Linked DNA regions of Homo sapiens. The protein of the gene in region 1 purifies or fractionates together with the protein of each later gene. This does not show direct contact. Each region holds a gene or a part of one and is shown in the gene's direction. Other genes may lie near its edges.

The links. Proteins that work in one complex are often made in the same cells at the same time.
Region 2: the proteins of ARPP19 (region 1) and RC3H1 fractionate together in Homo sapiens (co-fractionation; one large-scale study listed by BioGRID). This does not show direct contact.
Region 3: the proteins of ARPP19 (region 1) and CHID1 fractionate together in Homo sapiens (co-fractionation; one large-scale study listed by BioGRID). This does not show direct contact.

What each region holds. Positions count from the first base shown.
Region 1 is NC_000015.10:52,554,928-52,559,676, reverse strand, and holds part of ARPP19 (cAMP-regulated phosphoprotein 19), read left to right. Parts: intron 1-2,454; coding exon 2,455-2,577; intron 2,578-4,749. UniProt on the Homo sapiens protein: Protein phosphatase inhibitor that specifically inhibits protein phosphatase 2A (PP2A) during mitosis. Inhibition of PP2A is enhanced when ARPP19 is phosphorylated.
Region 2 is NC_000001.11:173,945,043-173,949,791, reverse strand, and holds part of RC3H1 (roquin-1), read left to right. Parts: intron 1-2,209; coding exon 2,210-2,423; intron 2,424-2,955; coding exon 2,956-3,046; intron 3,047-3,183; coding exon 3,184-3,316; intron 3,317-4,749. UniProt on the Homo sapiens protein: Post-transcriptional repressor of mRNAs containing a conserved stem loop motif, called constitutive decay element (CDE), which is often located in the 3'-UTR, as in HMGXB3, ICOS, IER3, NFKBID, NFKBIZ, PPP1R10, TNF, TNFRSF4 and in many more mRNAs.
Region 3 is NC_000011.10:907,196-912,469, reverse strand, and holds the start of CHID1 (chitinase domain-containing protein 1 isoform a precursor), read left to right. Parts: upstream 1-1,659; 5' UTR 1,660-1,695; exon of another isoform or gene 1,696-1,829; intron 1,830-3,824; exon of another isoform or gene 3,825-3,928; intron 3,929-5,274.

The sequences.
Region 1 (4,749 bases):
GTTTATTTCTCTGGCTTTGGTGATGAATATGGTATAGTCATATCTTACATGGGGTTAGGTTCTAATGTTAGTAAGGGAAAAAAATCACATATAGCTAAAATCACCCTTGACAAAATTCTAGAGAAGGCATAATCATATTGGAGACTGCCCCATCAATTCTCAGTAGAGCAGGTAGTCACTTTTATGTCCAGCGTTTGAACAGATGGCTAGATGGCTAGGGTGATTCTTAAGTTGAGTGCTAGCTAAGGTAATAGGCTTGTATTGTACGGGCTGAGATTTTAAACACTGCAATGATAAACAGCATGTTGATGTACTTATGCTCTGCAAGATACCCAACGAGAGACTAACGTGGGAATGGCAGGTTTGCATCACATACCTCACACTTACCTCTCTGGAGCATACCCTTCTTGAATGGAATGACTGGTAGACTCACCACTATTTAAATTCTCTATTTCTGGCTAAGTGCACATAATTGAATGTCGTGCATGTCAAGTGAGTGAATGACGTGGCCACTGTAAAGAGATAACATAAATGGATGAATCTGCAACATAAAAAGAGGCTCCACAGAAAACAGTATTTGACAGAAGCAGCTTTTTTCTCAAAATTCTCCGAGACTGAAAATGAGAAGATCTAACAACAAATGAAGAAGCAGTTCAGGATGAAATACTGATAATATATAAAGTGAATGAAGCTGATTATAAAACATGTATGAGAGCTGGATGTGGTGGTGCATGCCTATAATCCCAGCACATTGGGAGGCTGAGGTGAGAGGATAGCTTTGAGGCCAGGAGTTCAAGACCAGTTTGGGCAATATGGCCTGACCTGTAATTTTTTCCCCCCCGTGGGTACAAAGGGAAGGGAAACAGGATCTTCATCTTTTTTTTTTTTTTTTAATGTATGAATATAATTTTGAGTGAAATATATGCCAAAATTTTATGAAGTTTTTTTTTCTTTCAGTGCTTAGATAGATAAATGGTTTGCTTGCTATATAAGAACATAGGTTTGACATTTATGGATTTAACATTCCTGCTTTGACTATTCCTAAGTAACCTGGAAGGCTCAAGATAGGCAGAGGTATGTGATTTTGCTGATTTAATGTGCAGAAATGAGTCCATTACTTAGAAAATGTGCCTTGCCAGCTGCCCGGTTTATCTATCTCAGTACAGCTTTTTCTCTTTCTCTTTTTCTTTCTTTTTTTTTTTTTTTCTGTTTTGTTTTGAGACAAGTTCTCGCTAGACCTGGGTATGCACCCAGGCTAGAGTGCAGTGGTGTGATCATGACTCACTGCAGCCTCAACCTTCCATGCTTAAGCAGTCATTTTGCCTCAGCCTTTTGAGTAGCTGGAACCACAGACATGTACCATCATGCCCGGCTAATTTTTAAACTTTTTTACAAAGGTTGGGTTTTGTCCATATTGCCCAGGCTGGTCTCGAACTACTAGCTTCAAGCAATCCGCCCACAGCTCCCAAAGTGTTGGGATTACAGGAGTGAGCCACCGTGCCCAGTCTGTTTTTCTTGATTAATTCTTCTGCAGTACTTGCCATGAAGTAATAAACACTCCTTCCCTATTAAATATAGCACTTTGAAAGAAAGCAGACTAAATCAAGACTGTTGTTCAAAGTGAATAGATGGAAGAATTGATAGTTCTGTCAGGAAACAGGTTTTTGATATATTAAAGAATAGGATGTTTGACATGAACAGAGTTTGTCATTTTAAACATGGGGGAGAGTTAGGCAATGATATACATAGATGTGAGGATTGACAAAAATGATGTTTCTCTTCTTTAAAAATAACAGGATGGGCCAGGCATGGTGGGTCATGCCTGTAATCCTATGACTTTGGGAGGTCGAGGCAGGATTGTTTGAGCCCAGGAGTTCAAGACCAGCCTAGGCAATATAGCAAGACCCCATCTCTATTATTTAAAATAATAAAAATATTAAAAATTTATTATAAAAAAACAAATATCAGGATCATCTGTATTCAAGAAAAATGTACTGATAAGTAGGCTGCTGTTAATTTCTAGTAAAGAATCTAACTTCAAATCATACATAATTTTAGATAAATAGAAAAAATTCTGTATATTTTAACAGTATTAGGATGATTCTCTAAATATAGGCAAAGAACTGAAGAGTTCCATAGAAGGTGACTAACTATAAATGTATTATACATGACTGGAAAAGTAATGGCAAGCAAGACTTCAGAGCTGAGCTATCTTGATATTTTTATCCAGTGTGTGGGGTGTTACACATGCATCACAGCTATAATAGAGCTATCACATGGATCTTTTGAAAAACAAGATAGAGATGTTTTAAAGGCTTCTGGGTTTGATTTCTTAGTCAGATGCTGTGGTACTTGGCATTTAACAACTAGAATTCAGAATCCAGATTTTTAAAGGTGAATTATTTTAAATAACTGAGTTGTAATAGAGAAGTAATTTATTTGAAATTATTTTAGGAAATGGAAGATAAAGTGACTAGTCCAGAGAAAGCAGAAGAAGCAAAATTAAAAGCAAGATATCCTCATCTGGGACAAAAGCCTGGAGGTTCAGATTTCTTAAGGAAACGGTTGCAGAAAGGGGTAAGTTCTCATGGGTAATTTCCAAATACTTAAGCCCTACAAACTCAGTATGCTGACAGATTGTGAAACGGATATCTGTGCGTATAGCATTGTACTTTATCAGGTATGTACATATGTGTATATGTATCTGTAATGGGTTTTTCCAATATTTTGCAGTTTATAAATAAGCATTGTGAGAATCTACAACTCTTCAGCATTTTTAATAATAAACTATTTAAAGCATGTAGAAATAGTGCAGATATAACAGAACCCATATACCCCTTCCCAGATTTAATGTTTATATTTTGCCATGTTGGTTTCAGTTTTATCTTTCTTAAGAAAGAAAATGTTGTAGATACTGTTGAAACCCACCCTATATGTAAATATGAGCCCTTTCCCTTATCTCTCCAAAAGCAGCCACTATCCAGAAGCTGGTGTTTATCCTTCTGCCCATATTTTGAAACTTCCATATTTTTTGCAGGTGATTCCCACACAACATTCAAAAGCTTAAAATACTTATTTGGATGAAATGATCACTTAATAAATGCACAGCTATCTCCTTTATGTAATATGTTTCACAGTCAGATTTACTCTAATACAATTTAAACATTTTCATTTTCATAGTTCAAATTACTGAAGATATTATTTTCAAATTCTTGCCATGTTTTGCGAGGTAGATACCATTATTTCTCAATAATGAGATTGAGATAATGCTGGCCTGTTTGTTCCCTAAGTATTGTCCTGTGACCCCTTCCTTTGCTGTAAAAAATTAGAGAGTTCCATCTTCAGCTTAAGCATATTCAAATTACTTACTATACAGGGAAGGATGAAATACTACTTACGGAAGAGAATTGTTGAATGAGATGCTAAATCATGTTTCTCCTTAAATACATTCATATACTGATATCGGCTCCTTGCTTAAAACACGTCTGTGTGTGTATTAGCTCTAGGTACATATGGATTGTTTTAAAGTGGCAAAAAATAGAATGGTATTTTTAATCTTACATGAAAGAATAATATTCACAGCTTTGAAATACTAGGATGATGGAATAATGACACCAAATTTATGAAGATGTAAAACTCCCGTACCATGAAATATATAATCAAGTAGGGAAGTTATTACAAAAATGTTAGTTAATGTCTAAAATACATACAGAAACTTTTAAATATATGAAAGGGAACTTTTAAGTGTACAAGAAAAACACTTAAGGTGCTCCTGGATAAAGGATTTTAACAGGAAATATAAAAAACAGAGAAATGTTTATATATTATAGACATCAGTGAAATGCAAATTACATCATAGTATTTATATAACTAAATTGCAAAAATGTTTAAAATAATACCTATTGCTAAGGTTGAAGTTGAATGAAACTAATATGCTCTTTGTTGTGTTTAAACATTAAAAATTATTACTCGTTTCAGAACAGGGTATGGATTAAGGTTTATAAAAATGTTCTTCAAATCAATAATCTCTTATTTATTAATCTAAGAGTATAATTCAGTACAAGGAAAGTCTTCCAAGTTGGAAGGTCCTCCTTATAGCTTATAACTATAATTAGTAGCAGCACCACTATTCAACAGCAGAGAAATGATTAAATAAATTGAAGTAAGTCAATAAAATAGTATTATGTGGTTATTTTAGAACATAAAGATCATAATATAGGGGATAAATAGAAGAAGTAGAATGACAACTGTGTTTTTAGTTATGAGATAAATTATTTAATCTTTGGCTATTAAATTATTTTGATTTGATTATTGTTTAGGAAATATTTTCTTTGCTAATCTCCAGCATAACCTTGGCTAATAGGCTTTCTTCCAACATTGGGCCAATTGTCACTGTAATTTTTCTCTAGCTTGAACTATTTATTTTTAAGTATCTTCAAGTCAGATTTCATATACATTGTATCTTGGAGTTGGTGTTGTAGATATAAATAGTTGAGAATGAAGAAAATGCTACTGAATCAAGAAATAAGTAGATAGAATTTGAGAAGTGAGCTCTTTAATGATTCTGTATTATAACAGAATGTCAGTGAATAAGTTATTTTATATGAAGTTTTGATTTTTTTTAAAACTCTGGATCACAGGTTCTGGGTTTTAATTTTCCTCTATCACTAGTTAGCAAACTTGACAAATTACCTTAGCATCTTTAAGTAGCTTCTTAATTTGAGAAGGTTTGATTAGATATTATGATTA
Region 2 (4,749 bases), on another chromosome or scaffold:
TGGTGGACATTTAGGCTATTTCTGATCTTTCACTGTTAGGTATGGTACTCCAACAAACATTCTTCAAACATTCTTATGTATGTCTTCACGTGTGTGAAAGTTACACTTAGAAATGGTATTGCTGGCTGGGTACTGTGGCTCATACCTATAATCCCAGCACTTTCAGAGGCCAAGGCAGGCGGATCACTTGAGGTCAGGAGTTTGAGACCAGCCTGGGCAACATGGCGAAACCTCATCTCTACTAAATACACAAAAATTAGCTGGGCATGGTAGCAGGAGCCTGTAATCCCAGGTACTTGGGAGGTTGAGGCAGGAGAATTGCTTGAACCTGGGAGGCAGAGGTTGCAGTGAACCGAGATTGCGCCACTGCACTCCAGCCTAGACAACAGAGTGAGACTCCATCTCAGAAAAAAAAAAAAAGAAATGGTATTGCTGAAAGGTATGCCTTCACTATTATTCTTAACCCATTTGTCCTTATTAACTCTAACAGAGGTTTCCTAGGTTATTATATAGATTTTCATAGATAAATACTTTTCCAGGTGGTTAAGAAAAGACCAATATTTGCAATAAAAAAAGATTTGGATGCTGATAACCACTGTAAATGAGTGAAGTGATATCTAATAGCATAAATACAATTATATGCCAGCCCCACCCCCCCCCCCAAAAAAATAGAGAGTTTTAGAGGAAGAAAAAGCAAAATAAAATTTTTTTTTTTGCAGTAGAATTACAGAAGCATTGTTTTTAGGCTGTAGTAAGGCTCTTATTGGAACGAAATGAGGGGAAATTAGGCAGGAATCTTTGCCTTGTACTTGGCTTTCAAAAGGAAAGGGTTATTATATTAAAGTAACACGAGTATTAGCAAAATAAAACTCATTTTCTTAAATCAGTAAAGAATTAAAAAGTTTGGGCCAGGCATGGTGACTCAAACCTGTAACCCCAGCACTTTGGGAGGCCAAGGTGGGAGGATTGTTTGAGCCCAGGAGTTCAAGACCAGCCTGGGCAACATAGCAAGACCCCATCTCTTCAAAAATTTTTTTAATTAGCCAGGTGTGGTGGTGCACGCCGGTCCCAGCTACTTGAGAAGCTGAGGCAGGAGGATCGCTTGAGCCCAGGAGGTTGAGGCTCACACATCACTGCAGTCCAACCTGGTGACAGCAGAACCCTGTCTCAAAAACAAACAAACAAAAAGTTGCAATCCAATCTAGAGGTAATTGAAAACCTCCCAAATAGGTGAAAGAAGTCTAACCTAGTATTTCTCAAATGTTAATGTGCATACAAACTATATATTTGTGTGTCTATATATATGTGTAACATTATATAGGGATAAATATATATTTGTATGCATATATATATACTAGGTCATTATATATATATATATATTTCTTCAAGATTGAATTGGCTTTTATTAGTGATTGATTAATCAGGAAGCATTTCATCTGTGAAATAGAAAGATGCTCTAATGAGCTAAACAGAGAAAAGGAACAAAACTCAGATTAGTTGTTTCAAAGTTATTTTCCTTATAGGACTAAAGCAGAAGGGACTTACCAGTTCAAATTGAGTGGTCCTCTTATGATTGATTGCTGTGAATCTCCTGTTTTTTGGAAAACTGGCCCATTTTCAAGTTCAGTTTGATTTTGTGGCATCTAGCATAAGTGATTACATTCTGCTTTGATCTGGTGTCTTGGGGCTTAGTGCGGGAGCTTAGTCCAAAACAGTGGCCTCCCATAAATTTTAAAAATATATTTCTTAGGCCAGGTGCAGTGGCTTATACCTGTAATCCCAGCACTTTGGGAGGCTGAGCTTGAGGCAAGCTAAGCCCAGGAGTTTGAGACCAGCCTGGTCAACATAGGGAGACCTCATCTCTATAAATAATCAAAAAAAATTAGCTGGGTGTGCTGGTACATGCCTGTAGTCCCAGCTACCTAGGAGGCTGAGGTGGGAGGATCACTGGAGCCCAGGAGGTTGAGGATGCAGTGAGCCATGAGAGTGCCCCTACGTTCCAGCCTGGGCCACGGTGTGAGACCCTGTCGCCCCTCACCTCAGAGGTTTAAAAACCAGTGTTACATAAAAACAACCAAAGGTAACTAATGATTTTAGTCTTACCAGTAAGAGTGCTGTACTCTTCTTTAACCTTATTACAGATCTAGAAAAAATTAGGTTACAGAGCGATCTGAGTGTGGGGTAATTTCTCATTTTGCTTTTTTATCAGAATGTGGAGAGTAAAGGAATGAGGGACCAGCGATTAGATCTTCAGAGAAGAGCAGCAGAAACCAGTGATGATGACCTCATCCCATTTGGAGACCGACCAACAGTGTCTCGGTTTGGTGCCATCTCACGAACTTCCAAAACTATATATCAGGGTGCTGGTCCAATGCAGGCTATGGCACCTCAGGGAGCTCCTACAAAATCTATTAACATTTCAGGTAAGAATCTCAGAGGTAAGCTGACCTAAAGGGTTCATAATCTTGACTTTCAGCATTACCCCTGCTCTCCATTTACTATCAGTGTTTTTAGTAATCTTGCAAGGCAGTAATTTTCAAACTTTCCATGGAATCATCCCTGTAAGAAAGGTAATATAACCCAGAGAATTTTAGGTATATAAACTGAAATTAAATGTCTATATGTGAAGCTTTCCTAATGTTTCTTCCCCACTCCACCCCCACCCCAAATAGCTTAATTGTTATTTGGGGGAATAACATTCTCATTATACAGTAATTTGGAAGAAAAACTACAAAGACTGAAAGTTCATTGGGGAAGAAACAAACATATATCAGCACCCAGCATCATGCTGCCTGATATTTAGAAAAACAAAGTTAAAGAATTTTAAAAATCTGGACATTTAGGGTAGATACCAGATACCTGTGTATGCAATACGCTGATGTCTTTCAGATTATGAATACCTTAAAAGAAGAATCAAATCTGTGAATTATACCATAATAAATCATTCTCTTACAGATTATAGTCCATATGGAACCCACGGTGGCTGGGGAGCTTCTCCATATTCACCTCATCAAAACATACCTTCTCAGGGACACTTCAGTGAGAGGTATGAGTCATTCTTTTTACTTGAACAAACATGTAGAAACCTTTAAAATTAGGCAACTTCTTTTTGTTTTTCTGGTCAGTAATATGTTAACAAAATGAAATGTTAAAATTTGATTCACACTTTCTTTCTAACCAAAGGGAGAGAATATCTATGTCAGAAGTGGCCAGTCATGGAAAACCCCTTCCATCTGCTGAGAGAGAACAGCTACGACTAGAATTGCAGCAATTGAACCATCAGATTAGCCAGCAGACCCAGCTACGTGGACTAGAGGTACCAGCCTAGAGAGCCATTTTATTCCAATTTTTGAAGGGTTCTCAGAGATTTTAAATAGGAACTTTTGAGGCACTGTGAACAAAAAACTTTAAGGTCTATTTCTTAGGAGTTAGTATAGGTTTCTATTCTTCAAAGAATTCAATACTGGATTTAGCTCTGGGACAACAGAAAACGTAAAATTTCTGCTACCTAAAAATAGAAAACAGATTACGTAAAATTTCCCAACAGGAGCTTATATTCCCTGATGGCACATTTAAGGTTTTTTTTGTTTGTTTGTTTGTTTGTTTGTTTTGGTTTTCTTTTTTTGAGACAGTATTGCTCTGTTGCCCAGGCTGGAGTGAGGTGGCGTGATCTCAACTCACTGCAACCTCCACCTCCTGGGTTCATGCAATTCTCCTGCCTCAGCCTCCTGAGTGGTTGGGGTTATAGATGTACACCACCATACTCAGCGAATTTTTTGTATTTTTAGTAGAGATAGGGTTTCACCCCTGTAATCCCAGCACTTTGGGAGGCCGAGGCAAGTGGATCACAAGATCAGGAGTTTGAGAACAGTCTGGCCAACATAGTGAAACCCCGTGTCTACTAAAAATACAAAAAATTAGCCGGGCATGGTGGTGTGCACCTGTAATCCCAGCTAATCAGGAGGCTGAGGCAGGAGAATCGTGTGAACCCAGGAAGCAGAGGTTGCAGTGAGCCAAGATTGCGCCATTGCACTCCAGCCCAGGCTACAGTGTGAGACTCCGTCTCAAAAAAAAAAACAGAACTTTGACTTAAAAAGTAAAACATAGTTCCGGTGTAATAAGAATAATAACACTTTTCATTTACGTAGTTCTGTACCATTTAAAAATCACTACCACTTATCTTATTTGACCCTTAGAATATCCCTGATATTTTAGGCAGGTGGTATTGTCCTCCTTTTTTGATTGAAGTATATGAGTTTCTCAGAAGTTGAAACACGAACCCAAGTCTTCATACTCCAGATTCAGTGTTCTTTCCATCATGCTGCCTGACACTTAGAAAAACAAAACTAAAGAATTTTTAAAATCTGGCTGGACGTGGTGGTTCATGCTTGTAATCCCAGCACTTTGGGAGGCCAGAGCAGATGGATTGCTTGAGCTCAGGAGTTTGAGACCAGCCTGGGCAACATGGCAAAATCCCTTCACTACAAAAAGTGCAAAAATTGGCCAGGCATGGTAGTGCACGCCTGTAGTCTCAGCTACTCAGGAGGCTGAAGGCAGGAGGATCACCTGAGCCCAGGGAGGTTGAGGCTGCAGTGAGCCCTGATGGTGCCACTGCACTCCAGCCTGAGTGACAGAGTGAGACTCTGTCTCAAAAAAAAAAAAAAAAGGAATTTTTAAAATCTTTTAAGTGCCACATAAGGAAGACTAGGTTTTGTTTATACATCATCCTTTACGTTGGAACATATTCTT
Region 3 (5,274 bases), on another chromosome or scaffold:
CTCCCCCAGGAACCCGGCCGTTGGGAGCTCTGCAGAGGGGCCTGGCTCTGGGCTTCCTATCCTCCCATCTGCGGGCCCCATCTGCTCTTGAGGTCTGTAGTTCTGGCCCAGAGTGAACCCTAAGTAGATTCTGCAATTCTTTTTTTTGTTTTTTTGAGACCGAGTCTTACTTTATCACCCAGGCTGGAGTGCAGTGTGATCTCTGCTCACTGCAACTTCAGCCTCCCAGGTTCAAGTAATTCTCCTGCCCCAGCCTCCCCAGGAGCTGGGATTACAGGCATGCGCCACCACGCCTAATTTCTGTATTTTTAGTAGAGACAGGGTTCCACCATGTTGGCCAGGCTGGTGTCGAACGCCTGACCTCAAGTGATCTACCCGCCTTGGCCTCCCAAAGTGCTAGGATTAAAGGCGGCGGCTGCCCGATCGATTCTGCAATTCTTTAGCGCCAAAGACCTCTGACCTCAATGAGATCCTAAAATGGCTAAGTGCCTTTCCTAAGAGAAGTTGGATGTTGCCATGGCCTCCTTAGCATTGGGAGGACTGCGCATATGTCCCTGAGGACACCTGCCATAGCTTACTGGGACCCTCTCCAGAGCTCTGCCGACTTGAGGTCTTCACCCCCAAAGGTCAGGCTTCAGGCCACCATCCAGGCCGTTTGCTGAGAGCGAGTGCTAAGCTGAGTAAGAGCCCACAGCTGGTGGGGGACGTGCCTCGCACCGCATGCAGCCCCCAGCCCCTTCTAGGAAAGGCGTGGGCGTCAGCTGGCAGAAAATACCGGGAAGGGAAAGAAGGAAACGTGACTAGAAAGAAAGACAAAGCTTAGTTTAAGGAGAAAGCTCCCAAGCAGCAGAAATGGAGAAGCAGCTGTGCAGGGTGTCTTGGAGCCCACGCGCGCCCCGGGAACGGCTGAGCGGGGCAGGGTGGGGCCCGGCCGTGCGGTTTTCTGTAGGAAACTGCGCTGGGAACGGCTAGGGCTGGGGGTGGGGGTCGGACAGCCTGTGCCGCGTAGAATGCGCGGTGACTCAAAAGTGCTGGCCACGCGCTCGTTCATCCAAGCGCGAGGGGCTGAGTTGGGAACTTGGTTTGCCTCCTGGGGCTCCGGCTCGTGCAATGTGCAAGGCGGGGGTGCGGACCGAGAGAGCGCGCGTTTCGGGCAGTCCCCGCTGGAGACAGCGCAGTGGGCGCCATCGGCCTGGGGATGGAGATGGTCCACTCAGGCGGGGGTCGGGGGGACGCCAGGAGTGGTGACTCCGGGTCCCCGGGGGAGCGTGCCGGGGCGGAGCCCACCGCGCGGTTCTCCCGGCACCGCCGAGCCGGGCAGAGGCCCTGGAGCCCAAGGCCCCGCGCGGCCCCACGCCAAGGGCGCCAGGCCTGCCTAAGAGCCGTGGCGCTGGGAACCCGGCTACCCCTGGGCCGGGAACCTGATAACCAGCTCCAGCGCGAGCACCAGGGGCGCTCAAGGTGAACGCGCCGGGCCCGGGGTCCGCCCCCGGCGCGGCCCCGCCCCGGCCCCGGCCCCGGCCCCGGCCCCGACTTTCGGGCAGCCCTGCCCAGTCCCCTGTCCTGGCCCAGCCCCTCTCCATCCCAGCGTGCCGTGCGCGGCGGCGGCGCGCGGGCGCCTGGGGCGGGACTTCCGGCGCGCTGGAGCGTTTTCCGGCCGTGCGTTTGTGGCCGTCCGGCCTCCCTGACATGCAGGTGAGCCCCGCGGCGGCCGGCCCCTGCTCCTCCTCCTTGCACGGCCTCAGTTTCCCTCCCGCAAAGTGGGCGCGCCGGGCAGCGAGGCTCGGCCCCGGGAGGACGGGCGTGGGGTCGCGGGCGACGCCGGGCGGGTGCGTGAGAGAGAGCAAGTGTGTGAGGGGGCGTGTGAGAGGGTGTGAGGACGAGGGTGAGAGAGGGTTGCTATGAGAGCGAGGGTGAGCGAGAGCGGGGGTGGAGGGCGAGTGTGGACGGGGGCGCGTGTCGGGGGGACCGCGAGTGGGAGGTGGAGCGCGTGCGCTGGGGCGAGCAAGCCTGAGAGCTAGGCGCGCTGGGTGGAAGGGGCCTGAGTGCGCAGACAAGGGATGTGGCCGGCGGGTGAGGAGTGTGTGAGCGCGCGGCTCGTGTGGCAGAGTGGTGGCCATCGGGTCCCCAGGACCCCCAGAGGGAGCAGAGGCAGTAGGGCTCCAGGCGGGCTGCCCTCCCAGTGAGGGGCACGCGGTCCCCGTGAAGGGTGGGCGCATCAGACGCGATCCCACCCACCCTTGGTTCAGCCCCAACCCTTGAAGCTTCCATTGCTGACTGTCCAAACTGGAGGGTGACCCGCCCGCCCGTCCGCCTCGACTTCCTGGGCTCTAGTAATCTCTTAGCCTCCTAGCTACTTGGGACTACAGGTGTGCGCCAGCGCACTCAGCTAAGAATTTTTTTTTTTTTTTGAGACAGAGTCTCACGCTGTCACCCAGGCTGGAGTGCAGTGGCGCGATCTCGGTTCACTGCAACCTCCGCTTCTGGGCTTAAGGGATTTTCCTGCCTCAGTCTCCCGAGTTGCTGGGAGTACAGGCGCACACCACTGCACCCAGCTAATTTTTGTATCTTTTTTAGAGACTGGGTTTCATCACGTTGGCCAGGCTGGTCTTGAACTCCTGATGGGGTGATCTGCCCGGCAGAAAAATATTTTTTGTAGAGACCAGGTCTGGCTGTGTTGCCAAAACCAGTCAAAAACTCCTGGCCTCCCAAAGTGCTAGGATCACAGGCCAGAGCCGCCATGCACCAGTTAGTTCTTCAAAACACAACAGAACAGGAGTTGTCAGTGCGTCCATCGCAGAATAGAGTTAGCTCTGATTGGCTGCTGTCGCTCTACACATGTACACACATGCACAACACATGTGCACACATGACATACACGTGTGCTGGGCTGTGACGTAAAGTGCATTTCTTACTGCTGGTCTCCATGAAAAGCATTGGAAAGCCCCTGCTGTGACTCCCATCATTTCCATCAACACCACCGAGGAGGTCCTGGACCTACGGACTGGGAGCGCAGGAAAGTGGGAGCAGTAGCGCTCCACCTTATCTTGTTACAGAGCGGTTTCTGGGACCCCTTTGGGTGACCAGGGTCGGGGCCTGTGCCTCTTCATAACACAACACATTCCCTTTGTGTGCGGGGCCGTTCTGCCCAAGGGAAGGTCATTGGCATTTGGGGAAGAAACGGTTTGATGCAGGAACACAGTGTGTGTGAACCTGGGAGTCTGTGTTATGTGAAGAGCATGATGGAGAGTGTCCTCACGGGCCTCAGAGCCGAGCGGCCGGTGAGCAGTGGGGAGCGGGAGAGGTACCAAAGCCCAGACAAGGGCCTGGTTGCAGTGTGAGCACCCCTCACACATCACACACACCATCTCCCTGGGGCAGTTGTCTGGAAAGTTCCATGGCAAGTCAAAGAAGCAGCCCAGCATTTGTGAGCAGCCTGTATCCAAGCACTCCATCACAGAGCGGGCAAGTTAAGCGCGAGTGGACAGAGGCAGTACCCTGGCCTTGTGTTCAGTTAGGTTCTCCTAGTGTCCCCTCTGCTGGACACATGCTGGCAGGACTGTCTTCCTCTTCCACCCTTTCCTCTTCCTTCCCTGAAGTGTGAAATCACAGGTTGGGGGGCAGGGAGGTCATAGGCAGAGGGGCCACTAGGTGGGTGGACAGTGGCCCTGTTTCAAATCTGCAGGACGGCAGGTAGGGGCAGAGACCCAGCCCTATAGTGGTTGGTCACTGGGTACCTGAGTGTGCCCTCCAGTTACTCCTGGGCCAGTCCCCTGGAGAACCACCGTTTGGTTTTTCATTCCTTTCCTTCCTCCCTGACCCAGATTTCCACCCAGAAGACAGAGAAGGAGCCAGTGGTCATGGAATGGGCTGGGGTCAAAGACTGGGTGCCTGGGAGCTGAGGCAGCCACCGTTTCAGCCTGGCCAGGCAAGTGATTCTGGGCCGTCTTCCCTGTGCCATGGCCAGAACCCTCCCCACCTTCCCTGGGGCTGTTGCTGACTCAGACCAAGCCTCAGCTGCAGCAGAAAGATAGTGGGGCTAAGGGGAGGTGGCAGCAGGCTGCTGCCCTTGGTTCTGATTCTGGGATGTATCACTGAGGAGAGGGGCTGGAGAGGTTGATCGGGGCAGAGGGTGGTGATCTGTGCCTGGGCCTTCTTATTCCCCCTGCACAGCCTCTCGGAACTGCCGTGGCTGTTCAAGCACTCACTGCCTTTGCCTGTGGCTCCATGTACTGGGTGCTGCTGTGCTTGCCCTGTGAGTTCCCTTCCTAACTCCCCATAAGCCTGCAGGTCAGGCTGTCTTGTGGCTCCCTGCCTCCTAGGTGGGGGAGCTTCACTGGTTGATCTTGCTCCAGGAGCGTGTTCTTTCTATGCAGGTGTGTTGTGGGTGTATTGGGTACCAAAGCATGCAAACTCCCTGCCTGGGGGTAGCCACAGTCTCCTCAGTCTGCACCAGGAGCACCAGTCTCACCCAGGGAAGAGACAGGGCAAAGTGGGGCAGCGTGTGCCTCTGCAGAAGAAAGCAGGTCAAGGGGACGGTTTCAGAGGAAGTGAAAACAGGTTCCTGGCCAGGGAGTCTTTTGGGTAGGAGGGTAGGCACTGTGGTAGGCCTGGCTCTGGCAGCATCTTCTGACAGGTGCACCTGCCTGGCTGGGGTTCCTGGAGCCTCTTGGGCCTGAGCTCCCATATACTCAGGAGCCTGTGACCCAAGGGGAAGGCCATGTGCCCAGCTGCTGGGTAGTGAGTTGGGCTGAGCTCCCCACCTGTCAGGTATCTGCCTCTGCCCAGGCTGTGTGGGCCTCTCAGCTGGTCTAGAGGGGTCTGTGCTGCCAGAGCTGTGAAACTAGCCAAGAGCTTCTTCCCAGCAGTGTCCCAAAGCTTCATGAAGGACTAACAGTCTGGCTGGGCTATGGTGGTGGTTCAGCTCCCACCGCCGCTGCCCCCAACCCCAGTGAAAGATAGAAAGTAGAATCACTTTTTTTTTTTTTTTAAAGACAGTCTCGCACCGTCGCCCAGGCTGGAGTGCACTGGCACTATCTCGGCTCACTGCGAACTCCACCTCCTGGATTCACACCATTCTCCTGCTTCAGCCTCTCGAATAGCTGGGACTACAGGCGCCTGCCACCATGCCTGGCTAATTTTTTGTATTTTTAGCAGAGATGGGGTTTCACCGTGTTAGCCAGGATGGTCTCGATCTCCTGACCTCGTGATCTGCCCGCTTCGGCCTCCCAAAGTGCTGGGATTACAGGCGTGAGCCACCGCGCCCGGCCGGAA